3 linked regions of the Homo sapiens genome follow. The protein of the gene in region 3 purifies or fractionates together with the protein of the main gene of each other region. This does not show direct contact. Each region holds a gene or a part of one and is shown on either strand. Other genes may lie near its edges.

Region 1 (3,656 bases), on a different chromosome or scaffold from region 3:
TGGGAGAAAATTTTTGCAATCTACCCATCTGACAAAGGGCTAATATACAGAATCTACAAAGAACTTAAACAAATGTACAACAACAACAACAACAAAAACAACCCCATCAAAAAGTGGGCAAAGGATATGAACAGACACTTCTCAAAAGAAGACATTTCTGCAGCAGACACAAGAAAAAATGCTCATCATCACTGGCCATCAGAGAAATGCAAATCAAAACCACAATGAGATACCATCTCATGCCAGTTAGAGTGGCAGTCATTAAAAAGTCAGGAAACAACAGATGCTGGAGAGGATGTGGAGAAATAGGAATGCTTTTACACTGTTGGTGGGAGTGTAAAGTAGTTCAACCACTGTGGAAGACAGTGTGGCGATTCCTCAAGAATCTACAACTAGAAATACCATTTGACCCGGCCATCCCATTACTGAGTATATACCCAAAGGATTATAAATCATTCTACTATAAAGAAACATGCCCACGTATGTTTATTGCAGCACTATTCACAATAGCAAAGACTTGGAACCAACCCAAATGTCCATCAATGATAGACTGAATTAAGAAAATGTGGCACATATACACCATGGAATACTATGCAGCCATAAAAAAGGATGAGTTCATGTCCTTTGCAGGGACATGGATGAAGCCAGAAACCATCATTCTCAGCAAACTATCACAAGGACAGAAAACCAAACACCACATGTTCTCACTCGTAAGTGGGAGCTGAACAATGAGAACACATGGACACAGGGCAGGGAACATCACACACTGGGGCATGTTGGGGGGTAGGGGGCTGGGGGAGGGATAGCATTAGGAGAAATACCTAATGTAAATAACAAGTTGATGGGTGCAACAAACCAACATGGCACATGTATACTTATGTAACAAACCTGCACGTTGTGCACATGTACCCTAGAACTTGAAGTATAATAATTAAAAAAAATTATCTCAAGTACCTATAGTGATTCTATTAGGAACAATTATACCCTTTCTCCACATCTTAAACCAAAAACGAATTTTTCTATGAATTAAAGACTGAAATTTAATAACCATAAAAATAATTTTTGTTTTTATTTTTTGAGAGAATCTTGCTCTGTCACCCAGGCTGGAAAGCAGTGGCCCGATCTTGGCTTACTACATCCTCTACCTCCCAGGTTCAAGCAATTCTCGTGCCTCAGCCTCCTGAGTAGCTGGGATTACAGGCATATGCCACTGTGCCCAGCTGATTTTTGCATTTTTAGTAGAGATGGTGGTTTCACCATGTTGGCCAGGCTGGGTTTCAAGTGGTCCACCCGCCTCAGCCTCCCAAAGTGCTGGGATTACAGGCGTGAGCCACTGCACCTGGCCAGCATAAAAATAATTTTTAAAAGACAGGTGAATATTTACATAGTCCCTTGCCAGAGAAAACTCTTCCAACATGCCAAGAAAGATGGTAATCTTTACGAAGGAAAAGAGCAATGGTGATCTGGCCAAATACAAGTCAAAACCTTTTCTATGTACAAGAATGTTCACAGCATTGTGGCATTCACAATAATGTTACAAAAGTGGAAACAACCCAAATATCCATCAATGGACAAAACAAATAAAATGTGATGTGTGTGTGTGCATATATATATATATATATGCACACACACACACTGTACTGACACATGCTATAACGTGGATGAACCTTGAAAATGTGCTAAGTGAAAGAAGCCACATATTTTACAAAAGGCCACATATTTTATGACTCTATTTATATATAATGTCTAGGATAGACAAATCCACACAGAAAGTAGATTAGTAATTGCCAGGAGATTGAAGGAGGGAAAAATGAAAAACGGGGAGTAATTGCTAATGAACATAGAGTAATTAAACATTCTGGAGTTAGGTGACCAATAAACAACTTTCCGAATATACAAAAAAATCACTGAATTGTACACTTTGAAAGGGTGCACTTTATGGTATGTGAATTTTATCACAATGTTATTATTTTCTTAAACCTTCTGAATGTCAAAAAGTAACACGAGCAAGACTAAGAGAATAATGAAATAAATATGAAAGAAAGTTTACTCTTAACAAGATTCCTTATAAAATAAGAAAAAGTCAAATTTACCAACAGAAAGAGGGACAGTTACAAAAAGGGACTTTTTAAAAAAGAAATGGCCAAAAACCCCATAAATAATCAAAGACAAAATTAATATGAGATTATTTTACCTATAATACAAGAATTTTTTAAAATAACTGCCATTTTTGTTTCCCCTGAGGATAAATAAACACTTTCTGACAAAAGTTTTAAACTCTTTGAAATGTTCTTTAAAATTCAATTTCCAGAAATTTGTCCTTTAAAAAGGGCCAGGGCTGCAGACACAAATAGCTACAAGGATGTTGTTTTAACCCAGTCTTTTGGATGCAATTAACTGTAACTGAGATCTACTCAAACCAGCTTTTGTTTGTTTGTTTGTTTTTTAAAGGAGACTTCAACACAAGGATATCTTAACAGAGCCCAAGGTCAGGAAATACAGTCATCATTTATAAGAGGCATTTAAAAAATCAAATCATGACACTTCTCTGCTGAAACTTTCCAATGGCTTTTCACAAAATTTAAAGTTCAAACTCCTCAAATGCTTAGTTCTGACCCTGCATCCCCCACTCATTTCAAACTGACTGCCCCCAGCTTCTTTTATGACAGTCATTCCAAACTCCTTTCTGTTACCGTAAACACATCAAGCTCTTTCCCATCCCAGTACCTTCTCATTTACTGTTGCCAGTGTCATGAAGATTCACCACCCCTCGAATCCCTATAGGAATACTCTTTCTCCAGCTTTCATCTTGTCTAACTCACCCTTACTCTTCAGATCTTAGGAGAAAGGTCTCCTTGGAAAGGCCTTTCTGATCTCATTCTCCTCAGGGTTATGACCCTATCTATCTTACATTACTTATTTAACAGTTCTTACCACATTCTGTATTTTTTTTTTTTTTTTTTTTTTGAGACGGAGTCTCACTGTATCGCCCAGGCTGGAGTGCAGTGGTGCGATCTTGGCTCACTGCAACCTCTGCTGCCCAGGTTCAAGCAATTCTCCCAACTCAGGCTCCCGAGTAGCTTAGATTACAGGTGCCTGCTATGGCGCCCAGCTAATTTTTGTATTTTTAGTAGAGACAGGGTTTCGCCATCTTGGCCAGGCTGGTCTTAAACTCCTGACCTTCTGATCCACCCACCTTGGCCTCCCAAAATGCTGGGATTACAGGTGTGAGCCACCGCGCCCAGCCACATTTATATTTTTTGGTGTATCTTCTCCATTAGAATAATAGCTCCAAGAAGGCAAGGGACTTGTCTGCCTTGTTCCTTCCACCCCTGTGCCCCCATTATAGTGTCTGGCATATAAAAGACATACGTATCATTGCATGAATTGGCTTTCCAAAGCCACCAGGAACCAAGCTAGCTTCAATGTCAACTTCAGCCTCTCTCAATCTCTCTTTCTCTGGGGTTCCAGGGCTGCTTACCTAGCTCACATTTCCTTTAACTGAGACTGTGCAGCATATCTAAATCTTGATATCCAGACTTCTGGGAGATTATCTGACTGGTTAAGGCAAGAGTGAAAGAATAACCTGAATGTCAGAATTCTCATTCTAGGTGGAAAGTAATTACTGTTAAAACCAGTCTGGGCCAACCTCTTCA
Region 2 (2,734 bases), on a different chromosome or scaffold from region 3:
AGTTCACCTGTCACTGTGCTTGTTCTAGGAACACTCTTTCAGAGACATGAATGAAAAACAGTGCTTCCAGAATAGGGCTCCCAGGAAGGATGAAGTCTCTGAAAGCCATCTAATACAAAGATCAGCCTTGAGATCAGAAGCACACTGGGAGAATGAAGGATGGGCTGAAAATAATGGCAACATAAATAACAACTCAAGTTACTCAATAATGGAACAGGCTTCCAGCACTCAAGTGCAGGTTGACTGACCACTTGTGAAAACAGATTTTACAGGAGCAATTACTACACAGGAAAGGAGGAGGAGCAGGAGAAACAGTGATCTTTAAGGTATTTTACCTATTTTACCCTCTAAGATTCTATGACTCTCAATGTTCAAATTTAAACTTTGAACTTTTCAGACATGCTATCACAGAAAGGTGACACAAGCTACTATGTGCTAAATAAATGCAGGCACATGTAGAATGTTGTTTTACACACATGCAATTCTGTTCTAGGGAAAATCTCTTTGGATACAGAAGTAGGAGCTTGGGCAAAAGCAGTAACACAGTTTCCAAAGTGTCTACTTCTAATCTGTAAATACATTTTAGGCAAAAAGGAAAAAACACACTTGAAACCCACAGGCACAAATAAACCAACTTTAATAGATATTATTTTGTATTTATATAGTGCCTTCTTCAAGAACCTTAAATGCTTTACAGACATTATCTCTAATTAATCCCCACAACAACCCTGTGAGGTAGGTATTACTCCCATTTTACAAGACAGGGAGACTGAAGCACAGAGAGGTTAAGTGACTTGCCCAAGGTCACACAGTTAAATTCACTGAAGAGCCAGGACATGAGCGCTTTAGCCTCCCAGCTCCCAGCCAAATACCTCATGATAGAATCTTTAATAAAAAGTGTTTTTAAAGAAAGTATCAAGAGTAGTTATGTTATGAAAATGAGGTCTTTCTACTGCCATCAAGGAAAGAAAAAACCCTATACTGATGGTTAGAGGCCCCAAGACCCACATAATACAACATTTCCCTCTTTCCCTGTTCCCAAGCCTCCTGGTTCCTGTCTTAAATAATCTTTTAAAGGTAAAATTTCCAAGACAGAAGCCATGTGACTTAAGAAGTGGGACTTAATTTAGAATATTTACTTTTAGTTACAATAATTTATAGAAATTTTTATTCCAATATACAAAATATGGGACAGCCATCCCAACAATCATGTACATAGTTACACGGCAATCAGCCACCACTTACAACTTACACCAGCCCCGCATTTTAATCACAGTCAACCAACATACAACCTCACGATGCTTTCTTCATGGGTCACTTTTCTTACTTACTATACCTGTATTTTTCCCCCAACCCTGACCCTATACGTTTTAAAAGTACATTTAGTTTCTGATAAACTTCAAAACATTTTACTTAGATCCAGCTGCATTAAGAAGAAAAAGTAAATGTAAAACTGTCACCCCACAATCCCTCCCCTGACAAATCATACTATGAAGTACGGTGTAGATGTGAACAAGTATGTGATTACCAGGAACTCAACACATACACTAGAACTTGCTTTAATATGAAATTTAACTTGGCTTTTACGGCATGTTTTTTTTTAATGCAAAAATGTAAAAACAAACACAACATAGTATTTCAATGCTGTACCTTTATGCAAATGACTTCATCTATCTTTCTTAAACATGTTGATATAGCTAATGTTAAAACTGACACAGCTTCACTTTCCTCTTTTTCTCTGTACCGAAAGCTGCAGAAATACAGCTTTAATTCCAAGACAATTTGGTTTAAGCCTTCAAAATAAAAAGAGTGCATCCACTTCCACTGCCCTGACTTTCCCCACACTGTTGATTGTGATTCTCTGTGGCATGTTGGTAGATCAGGCTGGCTTATATATAATTTGTACAAAACACCTCTAGCCAGGGTAAGGCTTTAGGAACTATCTTAAAAAGAAACTTGTCAAAATACTTTTTGATATTTTGTACAAATACTAAATATTATAATTTTCTCCCAGAACATCTGTTTAAGCAGCCCAATTAAGTGACTCTGTTAAAGGTCTGCTTATGGAAAAAATAGGTGAAGTCATTTCCTGAGCCAAAAGATACAGATAATAAATGTTAATAATAGCAGCAGACTAAAAAATTCCTTTTTGTTGTTTTCCATAGTCAACAGTTTTAGCAAAAGGACTTTAGAAAATGACAATTTTTTTTAAATTTACTGCCTGAAAAGAGTTTAATAAAGAACATCCAAGGCCTGATTGCTATTATTCTGAATATAATTTTCAATAATTTTCTGCAAGTTACATTTGGCTACTGTCAGACAACTTACTGATGCATGGAAAAACGTCCAAAAAAACTGCAATCGTTTACATATATTTTATGTTACATATATTACTTCTTAAAACCCCCAACAGAATGAAGTCTTAGCAAACACAGATTTTAATTTCTGAACACCCTTCCAGTAAGATTTGTAAAGGTGGGGGGAAGGGAAGGAAGGACTTGTCTTTTGTATTCCCGGTCTACTTGATTAAAATTTAATCTTTGAAGGGTTTGTTTAGCTCACTATCCAGGCTGCTAGGGTTATGATGAACATTATGACTTCTTTCCAGGGTAAAAAATGGCATCTGAAAATAACATAAATGCTATGACATGATTTTCCCAAGCATGATCTCAACTTGAAACATTAGAATACTTAAGAATTCTAAAGATTGGTATACCACCACTGCACCAGAATT
Region 3 (3,551 bases):
ATTTCTCTCCTGCTAGGCTGCTGTGGCCCAAGTGCCCCTGCCTCAAGGCTCTGTCCCCTCCTCCAAGGAGCCCGCTCTCCTCACCGCAGGGCAGGACCCCAAGGAGGGTGCGGGCTCTTACCCAGTAGCCACGGGGCACAGGAGTCCATGATGCCATCCTTGGCTGACTTGAGGATGGACTCGGGCAGGGGGATGGAGTGCCGCACCATGGCCCCGTAGAGCCCATACTCCGCCATGACACTGCTCCGGCCCCAGCACTTCTCCCGCTTCCTCCACTTGGCTCGACGGTTCTGGAACCAGACCTGCAGGTGCACAGAACAGGTCAGAGGCTTGCTCTGAGAGGTGCTGGGCCCAAGGCCCTTACCCCTTGTAGGCTTGGAGTGAAGATTTCTCCAGCAGGGCGTCCTTAACCTAAGCTCGCCTACTCCATGGTGCCCTCTGTGTTCCTCCAGGCTCAGGGAGTATTCAGAAGGAGGACATCAGTCTTATGAGAATATCATGGGTAGTTCTAGGGAGATGGGGTATGGATGCTTCCTGGACAGGGTCTTGCAGGTGCGCAGGACCCAGTGTCATCGACTGTTTGCAGCTGAGAAGCCTGCCCTGCCACTGATGGCTCTCTTGCATGTGTTCACACCTCCAGCATATAAATCTTTTTTTCTGATTTGCAGAGGGACAAATTCCTTTCCCAGCACTGGACTAGCAGTGTCTCTGGCTCAGGGCTTCCTCTCTGCCAGAAGCCCAGAGTCACAACCATCCAGGAGGGCTGCAGGTGAGTGAGGGATCAGGGACAAAGGGCAGGGGACAGTCTTAGGGGCACTTCACCCAGGTATCAGGAAGGCTGGGAACTCAGGGAGGGAGACTCCCCTCGGAGGCCTGGGTCAGCCTGCCTCCTCCACCCTGTCCCAGCTAAGCTCTGCCAAACCACATGTGCCCTCCAGGTACCTGCTCCCCACAGCTCCGAGCCTAACTCTGAATAGTATTTGGGGAGCTGGACCAGGGATGAAGATAACATTCTCCAGGGTTGAGGAGCAAATGGGAGGAGGGACCTGGGAGGGAGTGGGGGCGGAGGAAGCACTAGCGAATGTGTCTCTGGCCCCAAAGCTGATTGGTGCAGGGTCTGAATGACAGTGGGGTACCCTGGGGTGTCTGCAGCACTCTAGCCCATTCTAGGATCCCAGAATCCCTGCCAAGTTTGAGGAGGGAACATTTCTTGGTCCCCCAGAGCAGCTTTCCGGAGATTTCCCGCAGCTGACAGAGCCGGGAGCCCCTCGCATTGTCCGCCAAGGAGGTCCAGGCCCGCGGGGTAATGGTGCGCCCCAAGCCTGGCGGTTCCCTTCTCGCCCCTCACAGTCCTTAAAGGCTCAGACCCCGGGGGCAGCGAGTCGCCCCAGGGAAGTCGAGGGAGTCGGGAGGGGAGGACCGAGGCGGGCTTGGGAAATCTGTTCATTTCCTCCCGATTTCCTTGCCTGGGTCTGGGCCGGCGCCGCCCTTCCCTCCGGGCCCCCTCCCCCGCGGCAGAGGTATCAGCTTTTAATGAAAAATTGCTCCAGCTCTATTCAGGAGGCGGCAAAAGAAGAGTCACCCCCAGGGGCAGCCCTGGGCTGATTGAAAAATAAGTTAATTTCAGTTTGAATCGATGGGCCTCAGGCACTGAAATACCACGGGAAATTAAAGCGGCTGCTCTCCCGGGAGCCGCGGCATTGACCCGCACTAATTAATGCTGGGGAGGCAGCACTCGCCTCGTCGCGAGCGCCCCCGCTTCCCCGGGGACCCCCAACTCTTCTCATTTAACTAATTAGACGGGGAAAATTGGGTGTTAATTTGTTTAGGATTTTCCCCCTTCCCCCCGGCAGCCCCTCGCGGCCCCCGCCCCGCGCGGCGCGGAAATGCATGCGGGCTCGGCGGCAGATGGCTGCCCGGGTCACGCTGCAATCTCCTCCGACTTGATTGCTTGATTAGGTCGTTAGCACATTAAAAAAAAATTGCTTGCCGTCTGGCGCTGGCGTGATGAGTGGGACGCTCGGCAGCGCCTGGGTAATTTATCTTTTTATACGGCGAAGAATTTGATTTCAATCTGCAGATATATGGGGCGCCTTTGACACCTGTTTAACATCGCGCCGCTGACAGCTTAACCCTTCGCTTCCTGGGGAGCGGGAGCTGGGGCCGGCGGGGCTCGGGGGAAGTGGGTGGGGGGTGGTCCGCGCGCTCCTGCGGTTCCCGCCGTTGCCGTCAGGTGGCGAAGTGAGCGCCCGGCGGCGCGGAGTCTGCGGCGGAGCGCGGCCGGCCAATCCCCGGCAGGGGCGCTCCGGCCCGCCAGCCTCGCATCCCACGGAGGTCACAGAACACTGCACGCGCACCTTTAAGTTGACCCAAACGCGTGTCCTCTGGCCTTTATTCATTTGTAAATAACTGGGAGCCTCTAAACATGGGAGCTACACGGCCTTAGATGCCCCCGGCCTCTCCCGCCCCGGGTGGCTCCATCCCCGTTTGGGCAGCACTTTTGCTGCCTCCGGGTTTGGCACCTGCAGTTCCCGCGCAAAACTGGGGGGCTGGGAAGCACAGGTGCAAGGCCTCTGCCTGGTCCGGACCTGACCACCCTGGGAGACCCCCGCCAAGGAAAGGGTTTGTGTAATCCGAAGGCCGCTAGATGACTGTCCTCCCTGCCCTGAAGGGAGTGGCAGCAATGCCAGCCGTGCTAACTCGGGCCTGCGTCCCGGCCTGGCTCCATGCCGTATGTAGATCTCCCCAGCGCCGCGGGCCTGTGCTGCAGGATGTGTGCCCGACTAGCTGTGTTACCCGGGGCCTGCGGTTTGTCTGGGGCCTCAATCCTGCCCCATCATCCTCCCCTTAGCGTATCTGCTTGCTGCAAGCTGCTTTCTCCCACAGAGGAAAAATCCAAAAGGACTAATCTACATAAAAGTATGACTCCCGGCCTGGCGCAGTGGCTCATGCCTGTAATCCCAGCAGTTTGGGAGGCCGAGGCGGGTGGATCACCTGAGGTCAGGAGTTTGAGACCAGCCTGGCCAACATGGGGAAACTCCATCTCTACTAAAGATACAAAAATTAGCCGGGCACGGTGGCGCACACCTGTAATCCCAGCTACTCAGGAGGCTGAAGCAGAAGAATCGCTTGAACCTGGGAGGTGGAGGTTGCAGTGAGCCGAGATCGTGCCACTGCACTCCAGCCTGTGCAACAGAGCAAGACTCTGTCTCAAAAAAAAAAAAAAAAAAAAAAGTATGACTCCCGGTTTTATCCACCTCTCAGAGAAGACAGCAAAGAATGAATCCCCTGGTGATGGAATTCCAGACACCAAGTGTGACCACAGAGGGCTGGAGAGGTTTGGTTCATGAATATAAGAAGCCACCTACTTCCTGGTCGGGTGACAGTCTGTCCTGCTTGAATACAGTGCATTATATTAGGTTGGTGCAAAAACTTATTGCAGTTTTTGCCATTGAAAGTAATTACTTTCGTTTGAGATGGAATCTTGCTCTGTCACCCAGGCTGGAGTGCAGTGGTGTGACATTGGCTCACTGCCACCTCCACCTTCCGCA

What was found.
Region 1: the proteins of VSX2 (region 3) and WDR48 purify together in Homo sapiens (affinity purification with mass spectrometry; 2 studies listed by BioGRID and IntAct, with this or other methods). This does not show direct contact.
Region 2: the proteins of VSX2 (region 3) and USP12 purify together in Homo sapiens (affinity purification with mass spectrometry; 3 studies listed by BioGRID and IntAct, with this or other methods). This does not show direct contact.

What each region holds. Positions count from the first base shown.
Region 1 is NC_000003.12:39,058,386-39,062,041, reverse strand, and holds part of WDR48 (WD repeat-containing protein 48), read right to left. Parts: intron 1-3,656. UniProt on the Homo sapiens protein: Regulator of deubiquitinating complexes, which acts as a strong activator of USP1, USP12 and USP46. Enhances the USP1-mediated deubiquitination of FANCD2; USP1 being almost inactive by itself.
Region 2 is NC_000013.11:27,065,536-27,068,269, forward strand, and holds the end of USP12 (ubiquitin carboxyl-terminal hydrolase 12), read right to left. Parts: 3' UTR 621-2,734; downstream 1-620. UniProt on the Homo sapiens protein: Deubiquitinating enzyme that plays various roles in the regulation of the immune response and inflammation.
Region 3 is NC_000014.9:74,256,353-74,259,903, reverse strand, and holds part of VSX2 (visual system homeobox 2), read right to left. Parts: intron 303-3,551; coding exon 122-302; intron 1-121.